3 linked regions of the Homo sapiens genome follow. The protein of the gene in region 3 interacts with the protein of the main gene of each other region in a pairwise test. Each region holds a gene or a part of one and is shown on either strand. Other genes may lie near its edges. The genes, in order: MAB21L3, CDCA7L and ABT1.

Region 1 (9,944 bases), on a different chromosome or scaffold from region 3:
TCTGCAGTTTTCATGCCTTTACAAGTTCGAAAGAGAAGATCATTATCATAGTGATAAGTAAAATGTATTTCTTAGGCAAAACCATTAAGAGAGATAAATAAGGAAAACCTGGGATGATAAAAACTAGAGTAAACAAAGTGATTTCCCATTAATTCCTCCCTTTGAGGGCTCTAAGTGGAAGAGATATTGGCTGGCATTTTTTTCGTGGGTCCTGTATTTTTTGTAAGAAAAAACTCCAAACTTTTTAGTGTGGTGTTCAAGTAACTTCAACTGCTCTATCTTTCTACCCTCCGCTCCCCCTGCATTTCCAATAGCAGAAATCCTAAACAGTGTTCGACACGTTGAATCCAGTGTGTGCTCATGTTTTGTTTGGCCTGTAGATTATTTCTAATGTTTTTCACAAACATTTCAAAATAGATTTTGCATAGAAATCCAGATTTCTGTCTTTCCAGGGGAAAAAAATCAGAATATTTCGCAACTACAGGTCCCAGTTTCTTGCCTGGAAACTGTGTGCTGGGGCTGAGTGTTTGCTAGCCAGAGCACGTGCTGGCCAATTCTCAGGAGGCTGATCCTGTGTCTGACACTTGCTCCTGGTCCCCGCTGCCTCTCTCACGTGTGTCCCCTACTCCATTCCTGTAGGTGGTTGAGTCTCCCATTTCTGCCCAACAAGAACTGGGCCCTGAGCAGGCCAAGGGCCCCAGCTCCTCCTCGCCACTTTTCTGGCTCATATTCATCCTTCAAACTCAGAGTCCACTTTCTCAAGAAAGAGTCCCTGACACCCCAGCACAAAATGATTTTGCCCACATATTCACTCCCGTTATAATTAGTATTACTGGCACCATTTATTTGATCATGAGTTTGTATATTAACTCCTGACACTTTTCTATTATCATCTTGGTTGGCAACTTACATGTCATATCATTTCATTCTTTATAAGTTTCTGGAGGGAAGAACAGTGTCTTGCATACCTTTCTTTCCTTTGACATTCAGAGTATCTTGCACATATATGATCAGAAATATCTTTAGAGTTCGTTAAAGGCAAGAGTGGTGTGGAAGGCGACAGGTCAAGGTGCATACAGGATCTCATTTAACCTAATCAACAACTATGTGATGTACATATTGCCTCCATTTTTAGAGGAGGAAACAGAGGCTTGTGGAGATTAAATAACTTGTCCAAAGTTACACAGCTAAATTGAGAGGGTACTGAAGTTTCAGCCTTGTCTTCTTTACTCCAAAGGCCGAACGTCCTCTGCCAAACTCCTCTATATCTCTGCAAACACATACTAAGCACCTGCTTTGTGCAAAATACTGTGCTACGGTTTGAGGGTAGACCAAGGCCTGAGATGTGGCCTGCTAAATGAAAGAGAAATTTTGGTTTTGGTCTCTAGGATAGCCCTGTCCCATCTGCAGATTTTGTACATAACCCCAAAGGAAGAAGGAGGGAATTTCACATGCAGTCAGGCAAGTGCTTAATAGAATGCATGGTAGACCGTAAGGGATGCAGTAGAGATTTCAACAGATTGCTGGAGGAGCACGGTGCATTAGTTGTGATGGGAAAGGTGTCTTACAGAAAGAAGAGTAGAGACAAAGCCTTGGAGGAAGTGTAGGGTTTTAATAAGTGGAGAAGTATAGGAAAGGTCTTCCAGGCTAAGGGAACCCCGTTCAAACATTCAAGGTGTATTTCATTCCCAGTCACCTTTTTCTTTTGGGGAGCAGAACAGGGCAGTGGTTACAAATATGGGCTTTGGAAGGCTGCTACCTGTGTTCTGTAACTTACTAACTTTGGGAACCTGGGCAAATTACTTAAATATTCTGAACTTTGGTTTCCTCATCTATAAAATGGGGATAATCATAGCATCCACCTTAAAGAATGATGGGTAGGCAGGAATGAGCCTACTCTTATAAAATGCCTTGCACACAGGAAGGACTAAATAATCTTAGTTTCACGGTAATGCTGCTGCTACAGCTTCTGCTACATTTGGGGGCTGCAAATATTCTGCGTGACCCAAGCATTTGATTCATGGAAGAATTAGTCTACAAAGGAAGGGATATGATGGTGGAAAGCCTATGGTCTCGTGCGTATCTATCACTGGATTTAACTTTCCATTTCTTTACATTATTAGCCCCTGAAAGACAGAGATGATGCCAGTTTTTGTTTTGTTGAAATTTTTCTAACTGATGATTGGATTTCATGCAATTCTGGAATTAAAGGTCTGACTTCTTGTTTTCTGGAAGGAAGTCCTCAGCCTTTTCTTCTCAGTAACACTCATTGGGAATGACATACACATAGTCTGCATGGTCATGGGTGTGATCAGGCCTGTGTGACATTCCTGGCATGCTACTTAGCACCACCACTCTGTCTCCATTGCAAGGAAGCGTATCGGAATGCAAGTGAGTCAGAGTGATATTATTATAGGGGATAACCTTAAATCCCCATAATTTATATTTGAAGCAGTAAATTATTCATGAACTTGAGCTATTAATAGCAGCAAATGACTTGTGGGGCAACAATGAACCTGATGCTGTGGTTAAGGAGGAGGAGGGGAAAGCAGCCCAAGATGGGACAAGGACCTTGACAGCATGGAGACATGCCTGGGAAGAGCAAGGCCCAAACAACATTTGTTTCCATGTTTTGCCATGAACTAAGTTTGGTGACAAGGTTGCCTCAAGGCTGCCTTGAAGCTGCAACTGGTATCTTGCTGGCTTCCTAAAGTTTGAGAGGCAGTAAAGGATTTCCAGGGTTGGGCTTGCAATGGGTGTCTACTTGTGTTAGAGCCTCCTTCTTTAGATCACTGTACAGCTGCCCCAACCCCACTGCCTGCTTTTCCACACCCTGAAATGAACTTCTTGCTGTATCTGTCTAGGGTGTGGCCAGAATAAGTGGAGAGAAACAGTCTGGGGGTTCTGTGTTGTCACACCATGAGGGTGACAAGAGGTGTCTGGCACTAAGCCTGGAAACCCCCAGCACAAATCACTTCTGGGGCTACCAAATAGCACGGTGATGCTGTGTGGGTAAGAACTTATTGCAGGAAGTGTAGCCAGAGATGTGGGGAGGGACAAGGCTGCCCGCCACCTAGAGAAAGAGGCTTCTGCTCAGGTCCCACAGCAGGAGCATCACTGTCTGGCCCTTGCTGCATGACCCTTTGTGCTTGTTAGATGCCAGAACAGTTGCTGATGCCTAAATACATGGAGACCTAGGACTCCTTATTTCATGAGTCTTGACTTTAAATTGAAGGCATTTTTAGGTTCAGGAAGAGGATAAAGGGTAGGCCGTACTTCTGGTACATCAGTACTTAAGGGTGTGGCAAAGTGTGATGGAAAGAAGTGTTGGAGAGCCTGTCTAATTCTACATCTAACTGCCGGTGTGATGTTAGGAAAGCTGCCTTGTCACTCTGGTCCTCCATAAAGTCACACCAGACGAGGCAATTTCTGAGGTCTCTTCCATTTCTAAGATCCTGAATCTAAGTTGCAGCAGAAGTGATGGAGGAAGAAAATTAAAACTGGAATTTGTGGTTCTAGGTCTCAAAAAGCATTATCTTATTCTGACTTTCACCTTTGGTAATCAAAACAGGTCATAAGGGTGAACTAATAACCTGTGTAACAAGTGAGAGATTATAGTTGTTTTCCAGGAGTGCGTGATCTTGTCCTGCTCGGTAAGAATTTCACCATCAAATGAGGGCACAATTTGTAGAATAGATTTACAATGAAGTACTTTTTCCAATAGGCTACTCTTCACGTGTGTTATGTGCATACATACACACATGTACATACATACACACATGCACACACACTCTTAAGCTTCTATTTAAAAATGATTTGATGGTGATGAATTTTTCATTAGTTTATTAACTCAGGAATCAAAATATACATACATATATATATATATATATATATATATATATGTATAGTCACTGCTATGTTACTAACATTCAAGTTCTATGGAATTACATCCGTGGGGCTGGCAGATTCAGGAGGCTAGTCTTGGCCTTCAACACGTTCTGAGAACTTAACTATTAGAGAATACTATTTCTCAACCACTCTGCCTGCAATGTTCTATCTAATTAACACTTTTATTACTTTTCTCCACTGTACCTGCTCAGACTTCAGGTCCCTGAAGTGGCCTAATGTTCCCTATTCTACCACTAGCTTTATCCGTTCTTTATTCCGGCTGGAAGATATAGCCCACTGCTGAAACCCTCTGTTGCTTTTTTATCTTTATCCATCTCTTGCCCAGCAAACTCCAATCTTAGCACCTCAACTCTTACCTTTGGAGGGCTAAGAGGTGGTGGAGCAGATCTCACTAACTGAACTTACTGATATCCCACAGCCTCAGGGACTCAGCCTCAGCCAAGTCTTGACACTGTCTGGTTATCTTTACTCATGCACCTAAACAGTCTCTCATTCCTTATAGCAGCTATCTCAGCAGTCTATCGCCTGAAATCTCTTGCCTTCCACTTCACTCTTAGCTCATTAACATCTCCCACTCTATAAAGAACATAGACGTCAGACTGGAAATCTCTCTGATTTTCACTGCCCCCTACCCTTTTATCTGTATCTGCATGCACCCTTTTCCCCTTCTTTCTTTCTGCCACACCAAGATGAATTCCTCACTCAGGCCTCTGGATGTGCATGACTCCTTTTGGGTGGGAAATCCTTACAAACTGGTTTTGCTCTCTGCTACCTCTTCTTTCACCACTGACTCTTTTCTCTCAGCATTTAAACATGTTTACACCTGTGTGTCATTTTGCAAGGAAAAAAAAAACTGTTCGCATCCCTGTTGTTTTGGTTTTCCCCATGGTAAAAGTTCTTGGGGCCAGGCACGGTGGCTCACACCTGTAATCCCAGCACTTTGGGAGGCCAAGGTGGGCACAGCAAGAGGTCAGGAGATTGACACCATCCTAGCTAACATGGTGAAACCCCGTCTCTACTAAAAATACAAAAATTAGCCAGGTGTGGTGGCACGTGCCTGTAGTCCCAGCTACTCGGGAGGCTGAGGCAGGACAATCACTTGAACCGAGGAGGCAGAGTTTGCAGTGAGCCAAGGTCACACCACTGCACTCCAGCCTGGCGACAGAGCGAGAATCCATCAAAAAAAAAAAAAAATTCTTGGAGGAGTTGCTTACCTCTGTCTTCACTTGGTTTTCTTCCATTCACCCTTAATCCACATTTAATGTGCACCTCTTCCCCACCATTAATGCTAGTGCCCAGTGTTCCCCCAATGCAGCAATCCTATTCTAGCTGTCAGACTCCATGGACATTTGGGGGCCTTAACTCACTCAAGCACTTACTGTTGACTTTGTTCTTGAAATTCTTCCTTTACTTTCAGGACCTCTCACGGTTTATTCTCCCACTTCACCACCTCTTCTAGGGCAATTGTGTTCTAAAAATATCACAGGAACAATTGCACAGGCATGAGGAGCACAAATTCTCTCTTTGTGCGCCTCAGGCCTGGCTCAATACCTGCTATTTTCTCATTCTAGAACAACTTTCATGCCCCCTTTTTCCTAGCTAACGCCTAGTAAGCTTTCAAGATACAACTCCAACACACTGTGCCTCCAGAAAGGCCTCCCAACCTCCAAACTGGATGAAGTATCCGTTTTCTATGTATCCATAGCATCTGTGCAAACCTCTACCTTGCACTAGATTGCAGTGATTTTAATTTCCAGGTCATCTGTCTTGCTTTGTCAAGTTATCTATAAACCTCGTGGCAACATGTATGCACAAAGCACAGCATAAAATGGATGTTCCACTCAAATTACTCAAATGGAATTGAATCACAACACAGATGGGAAGTCCTATGCTGGAGAGGACCCTTAAGTTTTGGCTTCTAAAACCTTTATTTTTGTCATTTGTTATTTTTCCCATAATAGCATCCCACAATTGTATTCTGTGCTTACATTTGTCTTCCTCACTACTGTGAATGCATGGCCGGGTCTATCTTGTGCATTGCTGTGTTCCAGCATGTAACAGTGCCCACCACAGAGGACATGCTAAACAAATACTTACTGATGAACTGACCCTATATGTGATATACAACGTGTCTAACAATAGGTGCACAGTCACATTCTTATACTATGAACATATGAAGTTGGCTTGCTGGTTGATGAGAAGTATGAGTGAGGTCTCAGGTGACTGGCCTAGTTGATGACTTAGTTTAGGAAAACAGGAATCTCTTTGACTTGGACTTTTTTTTTCTGGCTGTCGTGATCAGTTTATGGGTGTCTCAAAATGACTCTAGAATATGTAGAAACAGCCATTATACCAAATTCAGAGAGAGTATAAAGATTCATAGATGGGCATTAGATTGAGATGTATCAGATATTGCTTGAAACTGGCCCCTGGCTGAAGGAGCCTCTGAAGGAGAGTCTTGCTGTCATGACAGCAGCTTGTAGGTGCCTCCTGAGCAAGATGACAAAGTGCCCCCTCCATTTCAGAAAAAACTTGCAGACCCTTCCGTATCTTATTTGGATTTTTCTGTGTCTCTTCTGGAGTTTACTAAAAGTTCCTTTGTGTTTCCCACAAACATCTATTTCCCTAAACTTTAAGTATCTGATTAGTGTTGAGTTTTCTATGAGAATTTCCCAATTCTTCATAACTCACTGTGGTAACTTTCTGTCAGCAGAAACATGCCTTTTCTTAAGGGTCTAGAAGCAAAAGGCAGGGGTGAGTACGGAGGCAAAGAGAACCATCATTTACTGATGACATCAGTGGGAAGCAGGCTGCTGGGTGCTGATACAAGTTAAGTGGTTTAATATTCACACCATGGGCAGCAGGCGTGACAATACCATGGTAGAGTCTCACCATGGTTCACAAAACCCTGTGTGATGATCTGGTCCCTGCTTTCCTTTCCAAACTCACCTCCTATCACTTTCCTTTTGCCAGATCCAACCACAATGGCCTCACTGCTAGCCTTAGAGCATTGCCTACGTCAGAGGAGGAACATGGAATCTGCTCTCCTAAGCTGTCTTCAGCCTCACTCAAATGTCACCTCTTTAGAGAAGTCTTCTTTGTCCATTGCCCACCCTAACTAAAATAGCTGCCCCTTTATTCTCTAGTCCCTTATCATATTTTATTTTTCTTCATGGGACTTATCATACTTGATATTACATTATACACACACACACACACACACACACACACAAACACACACACACACACATATATATATACAGGAATACATATATATACACATTTATATGTGTGTCTGTGTGTATAATATCAGATATGACACTATATATTATAATATTGATATTATACATTACAATTATATATAATATAGTATGTATTATATCTACATTTATTCCTATATTTTCAGCTAGAGGGCAAGTATCTACATTGTTCACTGTTGTCTTAATCACTGTTGTGTCCCCAGCACCCAGCCTGGCACCTGCTACATAGTAGGTCCTAGATAAATATCAAATGAATGCATCTGTTACAGAAAAGAACATTGAGGCACCACCAAGTGTCTTCTCAATGGAGTCAGACCTAAATTCATCTCCCCGGCATCTTGGGAAGGCAGGATTTTTGAGCTGAACTCCCTCAGTCACCCCTTGCTGTACCCTTGTCTCCTCACTCTCTTATGCTGGTATCTTGGGGCCCACAGAGGAAATAACCACCATTGCTGGTCCCTCTCACACCCAGGTGGACTTGAGGCGCCAGCAGATTTCCCAGGCTGTGGAGGAGGTGCAGAAAGTCGTTCATCATTTGACCACAAACATCAGCAACCAAGACATTAGATTTCAAGCTGTGCCTTACTCTGACACGTACAATGAAAATATTAAGGTAAGCAAGTCTTGCTGTCTCTAAGTGCCACCAACAGAGCCAGGACACTTGGGCAGGTGAATCTCAGTGTGTGACAGATGCTTGCCTCACTCAGAATACTCATAACAATTCTTGTTTTCATAGGTATTCTTAGTTTTTACTATTTACAGTCTCATTTTATACATGTCATTTCAGCCAGCAGGGTGCCTTATGCCTATAATCCCAGCTCTTTGGGAGGCCAAGGTGGGAGGATGGCTTGAGGCCAAGAGTTTGAGACCAGCCTGGGCAATGTAGTGAGATTCTGTCTCTATAGAAAAAGAAAAAAAGATAGATGTTATTTCCTTTGAGCCCCCACATTCCTAGATGAGAAAAACTAGGCTCAGAGAAGTCAAATGACTTGATCAAGTCATATCAGGCACTAAAGCCAGAACTCACACAGAGGCTTTTGATTCCAAAGCACATTCCGCTGTCACAATCAAAGCTCAGTTAAATACACATTCATTTATTAAGCACCTACTTAATAGATTGGGGGTGGGGTGGAGGGAACTGAGGGCATCCATAAGAAGACAGTTGAAAGTCAGTCTGTGGGTTGCAGATGGGGAAGGAAGAAAGTAGAAGAGGTGCCACTGAGAAGCTGCAGGAGCAGACTGGCAACCCCTCTCCCTGCTAAAGAATCCCACCCAGTGTAAGCCAATGGGTAACACCAGCATTCAGGCAACACAGTAGTGAGGGCAGAGCTGTACACAGAGAAACGACCTTACTTAAACCTGTAAACCACCTTGTGGAAAAGACAATCTGTTCATTTCCATTTTAGAGGTAAGAGAAGTGAGATCCTGAATCATTCTGAATCTCCATTATTCTTTATCTCGATTTTTATTATGCCACCTACCTCTTTCACTTTGTATTAAATTTGTATGTATTCATGGCCCATTTCTCACAACAGACTGCACATCCCTCGATTGTAAGGACCAAGTTTACTATTCGTTTTGTTCCTAGCACCCAGCATGGTATGTGGCACATGGTAGACACTTAACATATGTGGAATGAATGAATAAATGAATGAGTAAAAGAATTAGTACCTGAGCAAAAGACCATTGCTGGCCCATTACATCTCAAGGTTGGTGGACGCAGGAACCACCTAAGAGATTCTGGGATTTGTGGATTCTGAAACAGACTCAGATTGTAGGAAATTAATCCCAGGGTGAAAATTATAAAACCAGACTGAATCCTGGAATGCTAGAATATCACTTGCCCAACTCTACCACCCAAGCCAATCTAACTTGGACACACATAGACCAGTGACTAGAAATAGAGATATTACATTACTTTTCTTAGCACTATACCCAAGGAAATTTCCTTCAGTGGTCCCACTTAGAATTCATAGCTTAAAATATATCTTGCATTTATATATGTCATGTCTCACATATTAAGTTTTGAAAATAGCTACAGCATAGCATATAAAATTGCTTTTAACTTAGATCAAAATCAACAAGTTTTTGTTTGTTTTGCTTTTTTGCCTGTTTTTTAAAGATAGGGTCTCATTCTGTCACCCAGGCCGGAGTGCAGTGCTGCGATCATGGCTCACTGCAGCCTCAACCTCCCAGGCTTAAGTGATTTTCCCACCTCAGCCACCTGAGCAGCTGGGACTACAAGTGCAAATGCCACCATGCCTGGTTAATTTTTTTATTTTTATTTTTTGTAGAGATGGATTTCATCATATTGCCCAAGCTGCTCAACAAATATCTACTAAGCACCACTTATATGACTAATAACATGATAGTTGTGCTTTTGAATTCACATGAAAGTGAATTGAAATAATGTACAGATCTGAAATTCCAGGGACTTTAGATGTTTTTCCTCTTTTTAAATCCAGCTGCCTTTCTATGGGTACCAGAAGTCATGTGGATACATCATCTAAAACATCAAACTATTGTTTTCTTAGAGTTAGACAGAACCAGCTGGAGCTGATTAGGGCTTTCCCCACTCAATGGGTCAATGACTGGCCCTGGGCAAGAGTTAACCAAATTCCATGGTCAGAGCTTTCCAGGAGGAGGAGGCAGCTGACTCACAGCCGAAGGCGTGCATGCAGTGGGACATGGTCATAGTTCAAGCTCCTTTGGCTGCTCTGTTTACCCACTTGTTCTACCTCTCGGCTGCCGGTCTGCCTGCTTTCCCCCAGTCGT
Region 2 (9,944 bases), on a different chromosome or scaffold from region 3:
GAGAAGGCCCGCCTCACTGTCTTCTTCCTCTGAAATCAAGAGCACAGACAGAGACAACTGGGGACTCTCTCGAATAAAAGCCGTCTGGTGGCTGATCACCATATATCAGTATTGGTATAATTATAAGGAGTTCTACTTACAGAAGCTGAGGTTGGGGTTCGTACTGGGAAGAAATCTGGCATCGAGTTCAATTCCGCCAATAACTGGGCAAGCTGAAGTTCAGAACAAAAGAAAGAATCTTACAAAAATAGGGCTCCAGGTTTAGGTCATCCAACACCTATCTCAAGTCTTCCATTTTGCCACCATAAGAAACCTAACTTGAATAGTTTATATAACCCACAACAGTTATACTTTTAACCTCACATGTAAAGATTGTACCTCCAGACCTGAGATGCTGATGTCATCATTCATATGAATGAACACTAGCCTATTCCTTATATATAAGGACAACACAACACTATGAAAACAGTCCTGGAATGATCAAGACCTGGAGCATGAGGTTCCGATCCCGACTCGGAGGCTAATCCAAGGCGGTGTGACCCTGGGACAATTCATTTTGCACACGTGAGTCTCAAGTTTCAGGATGTTCAAAAAAGAAAAAGCTCAACTAGATTATTTCGATGGTTATTTAGAACTCCAAAAGTCTGATTCTTTAAATAGATTAATTTCTCATCAATCAAAGTAATCTATGAAGATATTCCTACGTGAACTAATAATACCAAATAATAGGCATTAATATGCCAGAGAATTTAATTAGGATTCGTTTTAGTTTATACAATTATATGAGTGCCACCAAAAAAATCATAAAGAAAATAGCTTATTTTAAAGATGCAGATGGATACAGTGCTGAAAATTTCCCTTAGCTAAGTAAAAATGTTTCTTAGGATAAAAATAATCCGAAAGTAGGCATTCCATTTTTGTAAGTAATTTATATTAGACATATAAGCTTGCATATACAGTATCACTGCATCATTCTTTTTTTAAAAGGAAAAGATTAAAAAATTACCAAAATGCTAAAAGGGATAAGTGGTAGAACTATTTAAAAAAAAACTGTAGATAAACAATTATGAAGCAAACAATGATTCTCTACAATGATCAGATTAACAGTAATTGATTATATACAGAAAAACCAAATATATGTAACAAAGATTTCACCTGGTTCCATTCATTGTTCTAATGAAGACAATGTAGAGTGAATTAACACTGTTGAGGTTGTTTTAATTCCTAGACCTCTTCCATTCCTTCAGAAGTCTCAGAACCAGTGCTGGTCACCATAGAAGAGTGGTTCTGTGGTGAAAAGCTACCTGCCCAACCTGCTCCTTGCAACTTCTCAGTGGACTTGGTGACATCCCACTTCCCCTGCTTTACTCTGCTGGGAACGGGCTAGTTGTTCAGCCCCTCTCATCCCCAACACAACTATATACTTAGAACTTAGCTTGGTCAACAGTAAGCAGCATTATGGCACCATGTAGGGGCTAAAAATGGTGCTGGGGAATCTCTTTCTGTTCCCAAACCAGAGCTGATCATGTAATAGTTGCTCTGGGTTCTGGAAAAGTAAAAGGATACACAATACCCAGAGTATATTTTCTTGACAGAAGCCAAAGCAACAGCAGCAGCTGTAGGAGCAAAGTGGTTCTGGGAGCCCAGCAACTGCTGCCAGAGCCTGGTGCCAACTCCCAGGACGCCCTCCGTGAAGCCTCACCATGGCTTTGTTCTCCTTGATGTTCATGGTCCTTTTCAGCAAAGCATCTGAACTCTCCTGGCTCTCATCCCGAGAGTCATCCTCAGACTCAGAGGTAGAATCTTCCCTTTGTATCACCTGTCTACAGTCTTTCTTTCTTTCAAGAATTGTTTTTTTCTCATTCTGTAAGCGTGCGCTAGAAAACAACTGCTCGGAAGAACTGTTTTTATCTGGTTTGTTGGCCAGCTTCTTGGTGGGGAACTGAAAGGCTACTCGAAGACCAATACTACTTCTTCTAGACCTGCTTCTTCTAGGGGTAGCCTTATCTTCTTCTTCATCTTCCTCTTCCTCGCTCACCAAAGATGCTTTGCCATCATCACTCAAATCTGACTCCACGACCTAATAAAATAAGAGCAAGAAAAAGCACAAAGACACTGTTACAGACCCACAAAAAAGACATGCATTTAAAACAACTGACAGCATTATGAGAAAAAACATGAAAAATGAAAAGCTTCCCCTTCATATTATGAGTTCCCTCTGAATTTCCTTTAAATGTGCAAGAAATTGGTTGATGAATAAAATCAGAGAGCAGGCAACCTACTACTGAACTGTGCACCATCATACCCGCGACAGAAATGGGTTCCATTCAGAGCATGAGGGCTGTAAGCAAAACACTGACAGGGTGGGTTCCTCCACCGTGGGACAACCAGGGAGCACCAGCAAGAGGAGAGACAGTCACAGAAAAGGAGAGACAGCAGCATGACAGATGTGATCTTCAGACAGGAAAGGACGCAACGGGGGAAAAATGCTGACTGGTCTCCTCTAAATAGCAGGAACCAGACTCCTGAATAACAGGGCGGGAGAGCTGACTGCACCTCAGGGCAGTGACCCAGGACAGGCAGATGACCTGCCACTGCGTCCTCAGTCAAGGGGCACCTTTCCCTTCTCTGGAACCCTCAGAGCCATGAGGTGAAACCAGGTCACAAAGCTCTACAGGTTGTAGCAAAACACCACTCAGTCAACTCAAGAAATCCTCACCCGACATTTTCAAATTCCACATGGCAGAGGTCTCCAGCATTCAAACATTGCTCTGTTTTACAAGTGAGAACACAGTAAATATGGAAGGCAGTAACAGGGATACATCACCTAGGTGACAGCTTGGATGTGACGGGACTCTTAGCAGTGGTACAGAGACAGGTTTAAGTATGTAAGATCTAGGACGTCTTCTGGGCATCCTTCCATGACCAGAAGCTAGAAAACTTTGGGAACCATTATCTGGGAATTCTGAAAATCTACCAAGAACACGGAATGGCACCGATACGGACCCAGGATCAGTTCAGGGACTCTGCTTCCTCCCCGGTGACGACCATCAACCCCAAACTCTCGTTGGACTAAAGTTAGAAATAAGACACAGGGAGAAAAAAAACGCAGATAACTGCCAACCCTGGTATATCCACACCAAGCCAAGTGAGGAGTAAGACTATATGGCACTGATTTATCTATTTTTTAATACCCTGAACTTCCCATATTAATAGCTTCAGAATTCAAAATGGTGTACTGCAAAGGAACCCAATTTCAGGGGACACTGTCAGGGAAGAACTTCAGTTTTGATCCATTTATCTACCATCCTCATCATCGACAGGCCTCTCTTTACCAGATGTGGAACAGCTCACTACAGAGGCCTGAAGGAAGGAAAGAACAAATGGTACACAGCAGCCCAGAATCAGACCCAAGAGAAGAGCACAAGTGTAGTACATGGATGTGGTTATTTCGCATCCGGCCAGCAGACCCCTGGAAACCAAGTTACAGCAATGTCCCATTATCAAGAAAGATAGGTTCGCCAGTTCCCACAGGGGTGGGCAGGAGGGTGGGCTGGGAGGCAACAATGCTTTTCTTCTCACTGGATTCTAAAATAAAATTTGCAAGGGCCTGTGCTGAACTGTAAGCTATATCATGATCTATGTAACTACATCACACAGTCCATAGACTTGGGGGCAGGTGGGAGGGAAGACTTCTGGGGTAATTCACTTTCTCTCACTAGAAATGCAAATGCTTCGAATAACCAGACATCACTTCACTAAAGAACAGAAAATAAGTACATTGCTAACTGATGATGCCCATTAGGGTTTTAGAAGCATCTTAATATCGTGCTGGCAAGAAGCTAGGGACTTGCTGGCCAGAACTGATGGAACTGCCACACAAACAGCTTCTGCAAAGAAAGCCAAAGGAGACCTGGGGCCTCCAGGCTGGCACAGCTCTATGTTGCTACTCATAGCAAAAAATCACTATCAAACGAAGCAGCCTACCATGCGGGCTTTTATGCTCTACATTCTCTCCTAGGACAAGTGAGGGACATGGCAGGCTAGGAGTCACGGCTTATTTATACCTCTACACAGTCTCTGCCAAAAGTTAGTCTTTAGCAGCTTCTGGCTGTGAAGAGGCGTAAACTCTACGTTCCATCTTCATACTGAAGAAGATAGTAGCATGTTTATTTTTTGCATAAATGTATGCTATTTTTAGCAGAAAACATTTCTGCACTTAAATCCGAAGGCTGTGCCTTAAAGTTACCTTCAGGTTCAAACACGAGTGGGCAGTAAACTAGCCTAACTGTGCAGGATAAAACAAACAAATAACTAACAAGTCTGTTCATAGGAAGTGCTGAGAGTAGACTTCCCTCCAGAATCCAGGCAGGCCTGGGTCATCTTTAACACTAAAAAGCATGACAAATCCAAATCCACAATGCATGGGGAACACCAAGTTTGTACCACAGCCAAATTTTTGCCAAATTAACTTCAAACCAAAAACTGTCACTTCACACACAGTAAGAAAGTATCTCAAGAAAGTTGTCATCTAAGATAAACTTTTAGATAAAAGAGGTTTAAGGAACTCTTGAGATAATTTTTTTTTTTTTTTTTTTTTTTTTTTTTTTTTTTTTTTTTGAGATGGAGTCTCGCTCTGTCACCCAGGCTGGAGTGCAGTGGCTCAATCTCAGCTCACTGCAACCTCTGCCTCCCGGCTTCAAGAAATCCTCCTGCCTCCGCCTCCCGAGTAGCTTGGATTACAGGTGCCCGCCACCACGCCCGGCTAATTTTTGTATTTTGAGGAGAGATGGGGTTTCACCATATCGGTGAGGCTGGTCTTGAACTCCTGACCTCAGGTCCACCCGCCTCGGCCTCCCAAAGTGCTGGGATTACAGGTATGAGCCACCGTGCCTGGCCAAGAGAGATAAATTCTTTGAGAAGGACAATAAAGGACGCCTGGGACACATCCCCAAAAACCCCCTAAGGCACGAGGAGAAGATGAATGGATTTTCTCTAAGAGAATAATGGACTGGTGGACCAGGGATTAGCCTTCCAGGAGCAATTTTTTTAGGTTATGTTAATTGCTTGTAAGATAAATATGTAAGAAAAATCTTTTCACTTGTGAAGTGACTGCTTACAAGTAAAACTCTTTCAGAAACAGGATTAAAAACGTTACCACCCACATCCCTTCCTGTTGTAATTATTACCATTACTTCTGGGTTAGTCTTTCCATTCAGATCACTCTGCGTAAATCCTGCAAAATCCTCAGTCTCTGAGTCAGTGTCCTCTATAAAAATTCTTCTTAGCTCTTCTGTGAAGTATTTGGAATGAAAGCGCACATCCTGCTAAATTAAAGACACACATACATCAGAGACGGAAAGTAGAATAGAGGTTACCAGGGAAGGGTAGAATGAGGAGCTACTGAACGGGTACAGAGCTTCTGATGGAGATGACGAAAATGGATGGACAACAATGTGAATGTACTTAATGCACTGAACTGTACACATCAAAAACAGCTGAAATGATATACTTCATGTTATGTGTATTTTACCACAAAAAAAAAAAAACACTGGCCGGGTACAGTGGCTCACCCTGTAATCCCAGCACTTTGGGAGACCGAGGCAGGCAGATCACTTGAACTCAGGAGTTCAAGACCAGCCTGAGCAACATAGTGAGACCTCATCTCTGCAAAAAATACAAAAATTAGCTGGGTCTGGTGGCATGTACCTGTAGTCCCAGCTACTTGGGAGGCTAAGGTGGGAGGATTACCCAACCCTGGGAGGTCGAGGCTGCAGTGAGCTGCACACCAATGCACTCCAGCCTGCGTTGCAGCCAAGATCACACCATTGCACTCCAGCCGGGTGACAGAGTGAGACCCTCTCTCAAAAAAACCCGCATACGTACACGTATATATTACATATATACACATTTTCTAAAGCTTACAAAATTCAGACCTACAAGACAGACAATTTTTAAAAATTGGGTGTAGTCTCAATCAGCTTCTAATGTGACTGGTAAGTGCTCATGGAATTCAGCTTCTCCTGCCAAAGCTGGCAACCAGACACGTCTGCTTTCACATAGAACCAAAACACATGGAAAGAAGATATGAGGAGAAAACCTGGCTCCCTCCCACGTGTTGGCTTCCCTTTCCAACAGCCTTTCAAAGCCGGAGTCTCCTCCAAGTGGGTGAGCATGCCTCCCATTCACCAACAGCGAGCTTCTCTGTAGGAAAAGGCTGGGGCCTCTCTCAGCCCCCACCGCCCACCACCAGAGAGCCTAGACTTGCTCCATGAGCAGACACCATGGGGGCCTGATGGAAAGCTCATTCAAGGTCACCCCCAGGAATTTCTCTCGTGCAGGAGGTGAGAGGTGAACAACCATGGCTAGGTGGCAAGTGAGCAGAAGGAAAGATGCAATGTGACTCTTTAAGAAAAGGCATTTTCTAATACTTTTTCTTTTGAAATAGTGCAAAGATGGAAACCCAACTCTCTTAATAGTATACTTGAAAGAAAGAGGAAATAACAAACTGCAGGCCAAAGGGAGACCCACGAGACCAGCCCCCTGCAAGCCCGCCACACCTCATCAAGACTAGAGTCTGTCCCCAGTTTCCTCTGACGTCTCTTCCCCCCATCTCTGATATAGCAATGACCCCTTGTAACACCACACTTGGCGGGGAATCTGTATCTACCCCACTGCGTTTCCCCGCCTTTAATTATATACTTCTTTGAGCTCATATATCTCTGGGGAAAGATAGATATAATAGACAAGTGGAAAAACTTACAGGGGCACACAGAAAGAAATGCCTACATCTAGCATTCTGTAAGCTTAAAAATGTCTCCTATGAATTATTATGGGTAATTGGAGTGAGTTTGCTCAGAGCTGAATTACTTTGTTCCTTTGTTGATAGCTGTAGTGCAGCTGCTTGAGAAAAAAAATTGCACACACAAAAGGGAAGTTTCTTTAAAGTGAAATTCAAATCGTGTTTAAGGGAGACCAGAGTTAGCATACACATACTGTGTGCAAGTTCATGCAGCTTCTCTCTATTGGTTAAAATGGATCATGAGCCTGTGGGGTCGGGGTAGAGAAGCAGCCAGGGCTTGATTATTAAGGAAGAATGGTACACAGCTGCTGCTAAGGAAACCCACCATGCACCTGAGGCCTCTCAGTGCAAGAAACATCTGGCTCACAGAGCCTTGGGCCAGCCCCTGCAGGCTAATTTAGAGTGGTATTTCTGTGTGCAAATTTCATCAACTACCTAAAGCCCCTGCCTAGGGCCTGAAGGGAACAGGGCAAGCCTTGAAGCTATGAGTTCCCATCTTCCAGTTTTTCTGGCTATTTTGATCCTGTGTGCTGGCCTCCCAGGGCAATGGGCATCTTGGGAGAGATTACCATCTTTGATGGTCAGTCCTGATAGAGAAAAACAACTTACCATTGTCCTGAACTGAGGCCTGTGCTTTAGTTTCCTTACTCCAAAGTGTGTAAGTACTGTTTTCCATGTGGGTCTGTATGATGCCAATCTCCACTCCACACTGCTCCACTGCATTCTGAGTTAGAAACCCTGGCACTGCTGATTGCTCTCTGGCACTGGTTCATTCATCTTCAAAATCAATACTGGGTGCTATGCTATAGGCCTTGGTCATCTACCATGATCAGGACCATAAGCAAATAACACATCAGAGGAGAAGCTAACATAGGTGGATAAACTTATTTTGAAGTCCATGTGACATGGAAGAAACAGACCAGAGAGCAATGGCCTGTTGAACCAGACAGCCAGACAAGCACCCCATTTCAACTGCACCCAGCAAACAACACCCCCCGTGCTCACTGTATACAGTCAGGTGGGGTGTTGGATGCTTGAAATCAGAGGAAAGGAACAATACATGAGGACGAAAAGTCAGAGCCAGGGAAGCTAGAAAGCACCATTCAAGTATGAGGTCTCCCCTTCTTAAGGAGTTTATAATCTAACAGGGAGGCAGACAGGTCCACGAATAACCCTGGTGAGGGTCAGTGCTCTAAGGGATACAAAGCAATATGGCACACGGAGGGAAAGAAAATCCAGTAAGACTTCATGGAAGAAGTAGCATAACTGGATGTGAGCCACGGTAGAGGCTAGAAAAATGGTGAGAGCACAGATAGGCAGGAACAGCATGGACCAGTGGGCAGAAAGGGCAGAACAGTGGATAATGAGAGTGTCAGTTCAGTTCCTGTGCCCTGCAGCATAGCAGGTAGGAAAGAGACCCGGCGGGGTAAGAGGCTGAGAAGTGGTGGCCCTGGATTTGGAACATCCCAGCTTGGTACTTCCCAGATGTGGGGCCTTGGGCAAGTCATTACACCTTCCTGAACGTCAGTTTCATCACTTGCAAAACTGCAGCTTCCCAGGGAGGTCTGTGGATTAAATGCAGTATCTGTATGAAAAGCAGTTGGCACACTGTCCTCCCTGGGGAGAACACACCTGACTACAAAAGGAGTCATCATAGCAGCAGAAGCAGCTGTTCTGTTTCTTAATGCCCGGTGCCTGCCAGGCTCTGTGCTCGGCCCTTTAGACATGTTCTGCCTTGCTCAAATGCTCCTCAAGGTGGATCCAACAGGCTCTGCTCTCCCCACCGCCTGACTGTGCTCAGATGGAGGGCTAAGGGAGGAGCTGACCGGAGGTCAATCCTATAACAGATCCTAGTAGGAAGGGATGAGCATTCGGGTAAGAGCTACGAGGGCTACGGCAGCTGCAGAGGGAAGGGAAGGATGGACACCAGGAACACAGCAGAAGTTTCATCAACTCCTGGACGGGAGTCAAGGAGATGGAAGAGGGGAGGGAAGGCCAAGAACAAAAGATGGAAATCAAGATGGGGAAAGGGGGAAGCCAGAAAGACAACCAAGGGAAGGAGAAGTGAGTTTCAGATCTCCCTTAGCAACCAGGACCAGTCCAACTGGTAGTCAGAAACCACCTGGGGCTGGAGAGAGAAGACAAGCTCCACAAAAGAATACAGTAACAGCTCAAAGCAGGACAACAGACAAGATTCACTAAGTGAGAAGACTGAAGACAAACCCTTAGAGAACATCTGCATTTAGGGACACGAACAGGGAAAACAAGTGACAGTAACAAAAAGCAGGCCAGGTACAGTGGCTCACGCCTCTAATTCCAGCACTTTCGGAGGCCAAGGCGGGCAGATCACCTGAGGTCGGGAGTTTGAGACCAGCCTGGCCAATATGGCAAAACCCCATCACTACTAAAAAAAAAAAAAAAAAAAAAAAACACACACACACACACAAATTAGCCAGGCGTGGTGGTGGGAGCCTGTAATCCCAGCTACTCGGGAGGCTGAGGCTGGGAAAATTGCTTGAACCCGGGAGGCAGAAGTTGCAGTGAGCCAAGATCATGCCACTGCACTCCAGCCTGGGTGACACAATGATACTCCATCTTGGAAAGAAAGAAAATAATAATAACAAAGAGCAAAAGGTGTAACAGAGAGGAAGAAACCCAGGTGGTTAGAAGGAGGTCTACTGGTGGGGTCAACTGCTGTGGAGATGCCAAATGAGATGAGGACGACAGAGACCAGGGAGCCTCCAGAGATCTCAGAAAGCACAGCTCCCACCAGGCCAGAACTTACAGTGGCCCACGTAATTAAGCAGGCACTTCACTTACATATAATTAACTGCTTCCCTTCCTGGACTTGCCCAGTGGAAGCAAAGTGGGTTTAATTTGCTGCCTTTTTGGAGAGGCCATGGTCAAGGCAGAATGAGGAATTTTGAGTGCCACAATTAACTCAGAAGAAAATGCCACTGAAGGGTAGAGATTTTGGCCATTCTACTACTAGGACACAATGTGAACCTCCAGGAATCTACCTGTCAGAGAACTCTAACTTGTGAGTGCTAGAGATCAAAGTAATTAACGCAAGAATAAGGCTCTCCCCAGCAATTCCAAGAGGACATGCCAACAGAATTGCACCACGGGACCACAGAGGTGT
Region 3 (10,591 bases):
CTTTTGTGTCCCATTTAAAATCTTTTTGCTTAACCTAAAGTCACAAAGAGTTCCTTCTACGTTTTCTTCTAGAGGTTTTGTTGTTCTAGTCCTTGCATTTAAGTCTTTGATTAATTTTGAATTAATGTTTGTACATTGTGTGATATAAGGGTCTAAGTTCACTTATTAGCACATGGATATTCAGGTTTTTTAGCATCATTTTGCAAAGATTATCGTTTTCCTGTAGAATTACCTTGGCACCTCTGTCAAAAATCAATTAATCATAATCATGTAAGTTTATCTCTAGACTCTATGTAGCTTTGTTGTAAGTCTTGAAATCAGGTAGTGTTCTTCCAACTTTGTTCTTCAAAATTAGTTTGGATATTTTGCATCTTTTGACTGTCTGTATACATTTTATACATTTTATATTTGGCTTGCCAATTTCTAAAAAAAATCATTGAGATTTTGATAGTCATGGCATTAAATGTATCAGTCAATTTGAAAGATGTGGAATTGATATCTGAAAATTGTTTAAATTTTCTGTTCTGGAAACAATGCATTGCTTTCATTGCATCTTGGTAAATTTATCTCTAAATGTTTCATATTTTTTATACTATTTCAAATGGTATTTTGTATTTCAATTTCTAACTATTTATTGTTAACAAATACAATCTATTAATAAATAGAATTACAATTTATTATATTTGTGTCCTGCAGTTTTGGTAAGCTTACTCATTAGTTGTAGTAGCTTTGTAGAAGTTTCCTCAGTATTTTCTCGTAGACAATAATGTTACATGCAAATAAAGATAGTCTCACTTTTTCCTTTTAATCTGTATTTTTTTCTTTCTCTTGTGTTATTGCACTGGCTAGAATCTCTAGGATAATGCTGAATAGAAGTTGTGAGAGTGGACATCCTTGCTCTGGACCTGATGTTAGGGCCAAAACATTTGAGTTTTTCATCACTAAATATATTAGCTGTTGAATTCTTAAATATGTCTTTTATACTTTGCAGAAATTCTAACAAATGTATCTGAATTTTGTCAATTGCTTTTTTCTACACCTACTGGAATAATCATATGGCTTTTCCTGTTTAGTCTGATAATAAAGTAATTACACTGATTACATTGATTTCAAAATTAAATTCTAAGCTACACTTTTCTTTTCTTCTTTAATTCTTTGAAAGTTACTCTTCCCATTTTTTAGATTAAGGTACAATTCACATACAGTAATGTCATCAGTTTTAATGTACATTCTCCTTAGTGTAGCAAATTTTGTCAAATATAGACAGTCGTGTTATCACCATTACAATCAAGATATGGAATAATAATATCACTCTACCCCCAAATTTCTGCATGTTTCTTCTTCTTTTCCTCCTCCTTCTTCTTCTTCTCCTTCTCCTTCTTCTTCTTCTTTTTTTTTTTTTTTTAATAGACAGGGTCATGCTCTGTTACCCAGGCTGGAGTGCAGTTCTTCCATCATAGCTTACTGCAGGCTGGAACTCCTGGGCTCAAGCCATTACAGGCATGACACCAGGCCTAGCCTCCCAGGAGGAAAGAAGAAAGAAGTTGTTTCTTCTTCTTCTTTCTTCCTTCTTTCTTTCTCCTCCTCTTCCTCCTCCTCCTCTCCTTCTCCTTCTTCTTCCTCTTCTTCTTTTTCTATTTTGTTCTTACTGAATCACTATGTTTCTTTTATACTTAATTTCTCCCCTATCTTCTACCCCAGTAGCAACTAAGGATATTTTCTGTCCCTATAGCTTTGCCCTTGCAAGAATTTCATAGGAATAATATAGTATGTAGCATTTTGTATCTGGCTTTGTAAATTCAGCATAATGCAGATGAGTTTCATCCCTGTTGTTACGTTTACCAATAGTTTGTTCCTTTTTATTCCATAGGAATATTATAGTGGTCTGTAAGCTTCAAGAGAAGTTAAAACCATCTAGGTAGGACTCAATTCGCAAGTTGAAAAGGTGCTAAAACAATAGAGAAGCTACAGGGTGAGATTGTAATCAAGTGATGATGATACATTTCCAAGAATTATTTCAGATAGTTAGATTTAGCCATAAACCCATTTTGAACTTGTGTCTGCAACAAGAGGGAATAAATAGAATGGCCGTTCTGACACCAGATTCTGTAAGAAGAGGAAGAAGGAAGTCTTCCCTCAAAGTGATACAGAAATCTAGTGCGGAAAGGTACTAATTACTTGTTCTTGTATTCCCAGGAGGCAAATATTGGGGATTATCAGGGGAAAGAGCATTTCAGGCAAATGAAATTCCAACTTTAACAGCCCTGAGGTGTGATTCTTATGCTAAGATTAGTTTATAGGTAAAGAAAATAATTGATGAGATTAGCTATTGGAGTTCTTCCTGATCAAAATCAACTCTATAGTACCGTGTCACTGAGAGTCAGGAGGCTCTGGGAGCTCCTGAGCATAGCAGTAACTGATGAGAAACATACTGAGCATTTTTTTCTGTATGTTTGCTGCCCCCTGTGAAAATTAGTGAAGCTTTTATTCGAGAAAGCATGTGAACTGAGATCCTGGGGTTTGGTGGTGAAATGGCAGGGTTGGTCAACTGCTTTCACATCTGGTGTCCAAGGCTCAGTTAGTACACTTCATATGGGCAGAGACCATCTCATAAGAATCTGCTCATTTCTCTTCTCTGGCTTCTCGTATTTTCCCCGACTAGGTTACATTATTGGAAAGGAATTTACCAGACCATATATTCTTAGTTTCTCATGGCAATGAATTGAATAACTGAATTAAATATTAGTTATGTTGCTGCAGATATTTCTCATGGGAAACGCTGGAGAGGATCTTTTGAAAAAAAAAACCGTATTTTTGTCAAGATTACAATTATGGAGAACTTTAACTGTAATAAGTGATGATCTTTTATAAATAAATTCACCAACACTCCTTTCCATAAATTTCACAATTTATAATTTCCATATACTTCTAATAATTTTATAAAAAAGAAAAGTCTCTCCAGATGCCTTCCCGTTCTTCCCATTGGTGTTCATTTCTGTTTTAGGCACGAGGAAGCTGAATACCATGATAGGTACTTATTAGCAAAGCATGACAGCATACCTTTGTGAAAACTGTCAGAATCAAAATGGAGTCACTATTGTTAAAACACACAAACACACAAAACAAACTAAAAACGCTAATTAATAGAGCTGGAAAAGGCCATGCTTGATAACAAAAACTATCACAAAAGACTGCAAAAACCACAATCTTGCACAGGCCATCACAATCTTACACAAAAAATACTTCTACAAGGACATCTGCCCCACAACTGCCTGTCCAACCTCGGACTAGCTTCCTCTTTGCTATCCATTTTTGTAGCAGACAATAATTACCTCAACACAGTTATATAATCCTTCTCATTTTTTCCCTTACAAATCTTTGTCGCTGAGCTCGGTGGCTCACGCCTGTAATCCCAGCACTTTATATTCTGGATCATGAGGTCAGGTGGGCGGATCATGAGGTCAGGAGTTCGAGACCAGCCTGGCCAATATGGTGAAACCCCGTCTCTACTAAAAATACAACAATTAGCCGGGCGTGGTGGCGGGCATCTGTAATTCCAGCTACTCCGGGAGGCTGAGGCAGGAGAATTGCTTGAACCCGGAAGGCGGAGGTTGCAGTGAGCCGAGATTGCGCCATTGCACTCCAGCCTGGGCGACAGAGCCAGACTCCAACTCAAAAACAAACAAACAAACACCTTTGTCTTCCTTTACCTCCCTGAATATACATAGTTTCCTATGGCACTCGTATTTTCATTGCAATGCTCTATTCCCAAATAAACATCATTTTCTTTCAGAGAGCTTCTCTTTGTTATTTAGGTTGACACCTGTAAATAGAATGCTATATTTCTTTTTTAAATTGTAGGGGGAGAGAGAAGTGTTGTGTTTCATTTACTTGTCCCATTACAATTGTGCAATATCATATGAGCCGCTCAATTCCTAAACATATGTACACACACAACGCACTTCTGTTTTGTGTCTCGAACACAAATTACAAATTATACAAATTGTGTAATTTTCCTTGCCCTTCAGAAAGGAGAATCTCAATGTTTCCGAAATGAACTGGGCAGTAACTTCGCTTCAAGGCGGTAGGTCCCCCCTCTTCAACCCAGTTGTCTAAAATAACCTTGTCTTTATTATTTACTTCCTATAGAGAGAGGAGGTGCTAAGCGGACAGGACAGCTGGACAACACGCGCAATAAGGGCAATGGTCCTATCTATTCTAAGGGAGGAGGACATGGAATATTGGTGTGGTTTTGTTTATTTTTTATTTTTTTGGACCTATGTGAAACATTTTTACAGTAAAACCCACAAATTTTAAATGTTCAAGAGAATTGTTCATATACTTGTATAGTCAGTATCCCTACTCAGATAAGAACATTTTAGAACATTTTGGAACATTTCTAATATCCTAGAAAATTTCCTCACGTTTCCCTATATTTTCAAAATGAACAAGAATACAGGATAGTCAAAAGCAATAGGTAAATCCTAAAGAATCCAAAACGAGGGTAATGACATCCTTCGATAGCTCAGCTGGTAGAGCGGAGGACTGTAGGGGTTTGAATGTGGTCATCCTTAGGTCGCTGGTTCGAATCCGGCTCGGAGGAGTTCCATTTTTAAAAGTGTCTCTTCTGGGCCTGAAATAAGGAAACTTGGAGAACGCATGTGCAGCTTGCTTATTCAGGAATTTGTAAGACGCTCAGAGAAGGAAAATAATCCACCCTGAAAATTGCTAACAAGGGTTGCTTCACAGACAGTTGAGTGGGACTCGATTTTCACCAAGTTGAGAAGGGATCATGAGGAATGTGGGGAACGGGAAGAACACGCTGCCCCAAGGCTTCATTTTTTTTTTTTTGTCGGTTTCACGGTCCTTTAGCACCCCCTGTTATATTGATACTTGGTGTGAATAAACATTTTATTAATGATAATTTCAAATATATACAAAGTAGAGAAAATAGCTAATAGCTACCATTAGCCACCACACTGGCACAACTTACCGACACTCTTGCATCCATCATGCCCCTCCCCTAGCTCCAGATCTTTTAAAGCCACCCCAACACGTGTTCTCATTTCATTAACTGTACTGTGTTTTGAAGATGTCAGTGTTTATAATTAAATAGCAGTAGACGGAGTTTATCGCTCTCATCGTACCCCGCTCCTCTTCAAAAAAGGAGCAGTGGACACCTACCTGACAGAAAGTTCTCTTCAATAAAGTTAATGAAACAGGCGTGTTTGAATTCGAGAAGTCTATTATTAGACTTTTAGACACTCCATGAAAGAGTGCAGGGCCCTGTTACTTTAGAAATATACTTGGGGACTGGCAAAAACTGTCATCTCTGATTTTAATAGTGGACACATTTACTCCCTGCTTCCATTCTCTGGGCTACTCTGCGCTCTTGGAGCGAGATGGGAAATTTTGTCAGGCCGCAGCAAGGACGGATTTATGTTGATAGTCATCAAACTCGCCCCGGGCTGCTTCCAGAAAGCTAACCGGATTACTTGTACGCGGTTCCCAGCACTGTCCTTTGCAGTCAGCTTGTCGCTGGCGCCGATGGGAAGAACTGAAACGCCTCAAGGGTGGGGACGGCGCCCCCTGCTGGTCGCGCCCTCGGGCGACGATAAGAGACTGAGGACCCGAGCCCGCGCGGGGAAAACTGCCCTGAGCTTGGCTTAGGGATGGTCCGCAGGCCGCCTGGTGGGAGCAGGACCGCCGTGGCCCGGTCCGTTCTGCGGTTGCGTAGGTCATAGAAGGAAAAGTGGTTTGTGATCTGATAGGGAATCTGAGGACAGACCCAGGGAGAGCAGAAATAAGCGCGCCGCCGGGGGGTCGCCAGAATTGGAGGCTTGTGCGCCTCTGACAAGTATTTGCAACATAAGTATGCATATGGATAATGTATCAATACACACGTGTAATAGATGCCAAACAAATTCTTCAAATAATTGTCACACATTTAAATTTTCAGACATTCACAAAATCAAATGTAAAATATTAAACTGAAAGTTCACAACTTAAATTTTCAAAAATTAAATCTAATTAAATTTCCAAAGTTGAACTGTTTTCAAAATTAAATTTTAAAATATTCAAAATTCCGAGGTAAATTTCCAGAAATAGTTAAAACCTCAAAACTCAAAATTTTTAAATGAAATTTATAAACTTTAAAAGGTGAGTCATTCCTCAGCTGGAATCGCACCCGGGGCCCTTGAATAAAATGCTATTTTGATCGCTAGAACACATAGAAACTTCTCTAAAATTGTTCTGCAAAATTCCCTAAAAAGCCGGCATCAACCCGCCTTTTAGCGTCTCGACAAGGCGTTCTATAGGGTAGGTTATATTTGGGGATCTGCCTTTTCTGGTTCTGCCTGTCCTGAGTTGGAGATCTGACCGGGAATCTGAGCCTAACCCAAGTTTCCCATCCCGCTTCCACGCTCTGAATCAGGCTTCCGACCTGACACACCACTTCCTCCCTCTCCCCTCGGCCTTCCCCTGGACCCGACTGTATTGCCCAATCATTTCCTTTCATTTGTCATCACCACCTTGGACCCGCCCCCTCGTCTCAGGCCGTCGCACGCGTTTTGCGTCAGTTGGCAAGGCACTTTACGGCCGTCGTGCCGCTCGTGTCAGTCAACATGGAGGCAGAGGAATCGGAGAAGGCCGCAACGGAGCAAGAGCCGCTGGAAGGGACAGAACAGACACTAGATGCGGAGGAGGAGCAGGAGGAATCCGAAGAAGCGGCCTGTGGCAGCAAGAAACGGGTAGTGCCAGGTATTGTGTACCTGGGCCATATCCCGCCGCGCTTCCGGCCCCTGCACGTCCGCAACCTTCTCAGCGCCTATGGCGAGGTCGGACGCGTCTTCTTTCAGGCTGAGGGTAAGTATGCAGGCCCTGACGGTGACAGGAGGAGGTTGTCGCTCGCTGGCGGGGTGCAAGCATGCATGTCCTGTTGCTTCGCTGCGCGAGGCTGAGGCACGAGTTGCTGGATTTTGGGGGTGGGGAGTGCGGTGCTTGGCTCCTGGCTGGTGAATCAGTCTGTGAGGATGCTGGGGTGGGCGGGCGGAGGGGATATGGGGAGAGTGGGTAGCGCAGTGTGTCTGGTGGTTCTTTAGTTCTCGGATTGTTACTATTTGTGTTCTTATCCCGGCTCTGTTCACCTCTCTTTCCGGACCTGTTTACTGGTTTGTTACATGAATACAACCTGAGTAAAAGTCTCGTCAGCTTTTCTACAAAACTGAACATAACTCTTTAGCATTGCTGCCTAGGTCAAGAAACTATTTGATCAACCGCCCCTCTTCTTTCCACCCTCAATTTTACATTGAGGCTGAGGACTTGTGCCGGTTTTAAGCAGCGTTCAGGGCTGGCCAGATTAAGGAGTGGACAATTAAGGAAAGAATTGAGTTAGCTAGAGGAAAGGGTGCGATTTACAGTTCCCTTCCTCCTGGGCAAAAACTCTTCAGGTGGGACTCCCACTGGCAGATGTGAAGAACGTTGCGGGCAGTGGGAGGTGCTTTTGAGTGAGTGCTGCATAGGCGTCCTGGACGGGTCTTTGTCTTTGGCGCGCAGACCGGTTCGTGAGACGCAAGAAGAAGGCAGCAGCAGCTGCCGGAGGAAAAAAGCGGTCCTACACCAAGGACTACACCGAGGGATGGGTGGAGTTCCGTGACAAGCGCATAGCCAAGCGCGTGGCGGCCAGTCTACACAACACGCCTATGGGTGCCCGCAGGCGCAGCCCCTTCCGTTATGATCTTTGGAACCTCAAGGTGAGAAGATAGATCTTTCTGCCACACCTCTCACCCTCCCTTCTCCCCAACTCTGGCCCAAGTATCCCCATGGCCTCTCATTGGCCTTGTCCCCTTGTCTCATCTTTCTCCCTAATCTGCACTATCCTGATCTTTTCTTCTTTTCTGCCCACAGTACTTGCACCGTTTCACCTGGTCCCACCTCAGCGAGCACCTCGCCTTTGAGCGCCAGGTGCGCAGGCAGCGCTTGAGAGCGGAGGTTGCTCAAGCCAAGCGTGAGACCGACTTCTATCTTCAAAGTGTGGAACGGGGACAACGCTTTCTTGCGGCCGATGGGGACCCTGCTCGCCCAGATGGCTCCTGGACATTTGCCCAGCGTCCTACTGAGCAGGAACTGAGGGCCCGTAAAGCAGCACGGCCAGGGGGACGTGAACGGGCTCGCCTGGCAACTGCCCAGGACAAGGCCCGCTCCAACAAAGGGCTCCTGGCCAGGATCTTTGGAGCCCCGCCACCCTCAGAGAGCATGGAGGGACCTTCCCTTGTCAGGGACTCCTGAGGGCCTGGGTGGCCCCTTCCATTTCCTGGCCCTGCTCTGCTTCCTGTCTACCTCATACTAGAATGATCGTGACTACCCGGGCAGACATTTTACTGTGTTTCTCAGACCAAGTGTCTACTGATGGCCCAAACATGGAGTTTTGTGGGCTTCCACTGTCCCCACTCCGAACTCCTGTATGTGCCTGGCTGAGTCACCTAATTCATACTGTCATACTAGCATAATTATGACTATTGCATATGCTTGTTTTGTTTGACTCTTGGCTGCCTACGTCTGTAGGGTCCCCTGAAAATCCCACTTCCTGCCCCCAGAAAGGGCCTTTATTTCCAACTAGGAGGATAATGCCTAGTCCAGGCAATCTTTCTCTGTTTAGCAGTCACAGGTGAGGGTGGTATTAGCATCTTTTTTATGTAGAAAAAATTGAGTTAATGGGGTGGACTGGGTTGGGAAGAAATACATTTCCTAATGTATTTATAGAAAATAAAAATATTTTTATGTGCCTTTTTATTTTTGTTGGTGGGGAGGTCATTGGACAAGTTCCAACTTTCATCTTGTGTTCCCTTCACCTTCATATCCTGATCTTAGAGCCCCCCTCCCCCTGCCACCCACCTTACTGTTTAACCTGGATTTTTTTTTCTATTTAATTTTTGTCTAATATCTTAGCCCAGTTTATCAATCAGTTATCTTAAGTCAGCATTTTCTAAGCCATTGTTTGAGGAAACAGTGACAATAGGTAATAACACATCTTAGTATTAAGAGTTTTACAGGCCACTAGTATAAGATAGGCATCGTGGTAGATGCATATAAAGGGTGGAATGGGAGCCATGGCAGGTCATAGAGTCCTCTCAATGGGAACCTGATTGATGATCACAGTCTTCAGTGGTGAGTCAGTCCTCACCAAGTTTTCCAGATCATTCCTACAAAGTAAACTGGGAGAATAATAAGTCTGAAAGAGTGTGGAGTGCTCCCACAATTACAAAGAATGCTTCCTGGGTGGAGTGTTGAGTTGGAACCATTGTAAAGGTGGGCAAAGCCTAGTAGAGAACCAGTGCACCTCAGGTGCACTTACATATGGTGGGGCTGAGGCAAAGCAGCCCTGTAGGCTTCAAAGAATCAGTGTAAGCCACTAAAAGGAACTGAAAACCTAGGTGTCACAATAAACAGTCTACACAGTCTCACGTAGACCAAAATTCTGATCATTTTCCAGGCTGTTGCATGAAGTGATAGAGTATGATTATAATTTCTGTTTGCTTGTGCTGTTTGTTTTTGTTTTTCATCTGTCAATGTGATGATCTGTGTTTTATAGGGTAGAGTGGATTTGTCTACTTTGGCTGTAAAATACCCTAATCACATTATGATCTTGACAGGTGCACTTTACTGGGGAGAATAAAAAGGACCATACGGTAAAGCTGGTATAACATTTCTCACAACCCACATACCTCTTATACTTGGCACACAAACTACGTTTCCATTTAGAAACTTTCGTCTTGTTTCTGTTTTTAATTCTTGTGGGTTTGTTTCATGTGAATTGTTTCCTCAGATCATTGATGTCTTAAAGTGAAACAGAAAAATCCAGAATCAGAATTTGACAGGCTGGCATATTCATTTATTCAGAATTCCAAGTGCCCATTGCTACTTCTGCTAGATAAAGAGATACCAAGGTGAAGAAGAAACTTTCCCTCTAGTTGCTAACAGCTTAGAAAGTACAGTAGACATACTGGGGTTTTATTTAAGACTTTCTTGAATGAAGAAATAAATTGCATTCCCACGGTGGACAGCGTTAGATAACAGTATGTTCAAGGGCTGGTATTTCAGGGTCCATCTCCAAAACAGTTCTGTACAAAGAGCTCACACCTGCGGCCAGGCAAGCTAAGTAAGTCACAGGTGGAGTGAGGAATGAGAATAAATGGGTGGAAGAAAATATCCTAGGAACTTTCATCTTGACTTTAAGCCCATTGAGTGTAGGAAAATAATTTTTTACATCCACAATTTTGTTTCTATTTAAACAGCACTTGTTTTTTTATATGAAGTAACTCATTTAATCCACAACTATATAATATTGTTATCCCCCCATTAAAACTGAGCTCAGAGAGATGACTCAATTTGCCTCTTAATATTTTATCCTTTGTTCCTCACCTTTTCCCCAGCTTTTCCCAGTGTGCATATGGTGAATGCTTATTACAGGAAATTCATGAGAAATGCACATGTTATAGACTAGAGAATGAAGTGTACCTGCCAATATGAGTGGATTTATTTTATCTAGCACCAAGAGTAGCAAACTGAGTAATAATTCTCAGTCATGATCCTG

What was found.
Region 1: the proteins of ABT1 (region 3) and MAB21L3 interact in binary tests that used the Homo sapiens proteins (3 or more experiments, as listed by UniProt).
Region 2: the proteins of ABT1 (region 3) and CDCA7L interact in binary tests that used the Homo sapiens proteins (3 or more experiments, as listed by UniProt).

Annotation. Positions count from the first base shown.
Region 1 is NC_000001.11:116,113,291-116,123,234, forward strand, and holds part of MAB21L3 (protein mab-21-like 3), read left to right. Parts: intron 1-7,641; coding exon 7,642-7,782; intron 7,783-8,029; exon of another isoform or gene 8,030-8,068; intron 8,069-8,840; exon of another isoform or gene 8,841-8,925; intron 8,926-9,944.
Region 2 is NC_000007.14:21,906,428-21,916,371, forward strand, and holds part of CDCA7L (cell division cycle-associated 7-like protein), read right to left. Parts: intron 5,328-9,944; coding exon 5,190-5,327; intron 2,081-5,189; coding exon 1,703-2,080; intron 213-1,702; coding exon 141-212; intron 30-140; coding exon 1-29. UniProt on the Homo sapiens protein: Plays a role in transcriptional regulation as a repressor that inhibits monoamine oxidase A (MAOA) activity and gene expression by binding to the promoter.
Region 3 is NC_000006.12:26,590,360-26,600,950, forward strand, and holds ABT1 (activator of basal transcription 1), read left to right. Parts: upstream 1-6,593; 5' UTR 6,594-6,623; coding exon 6,624-6,864; intron 6,865-7,554; coding exon 7,555-7,751; intron 7,752-7,905; coding exon 7,906-8,286; 3' UTR 8,287-10,380; downstream 10,381-10,591.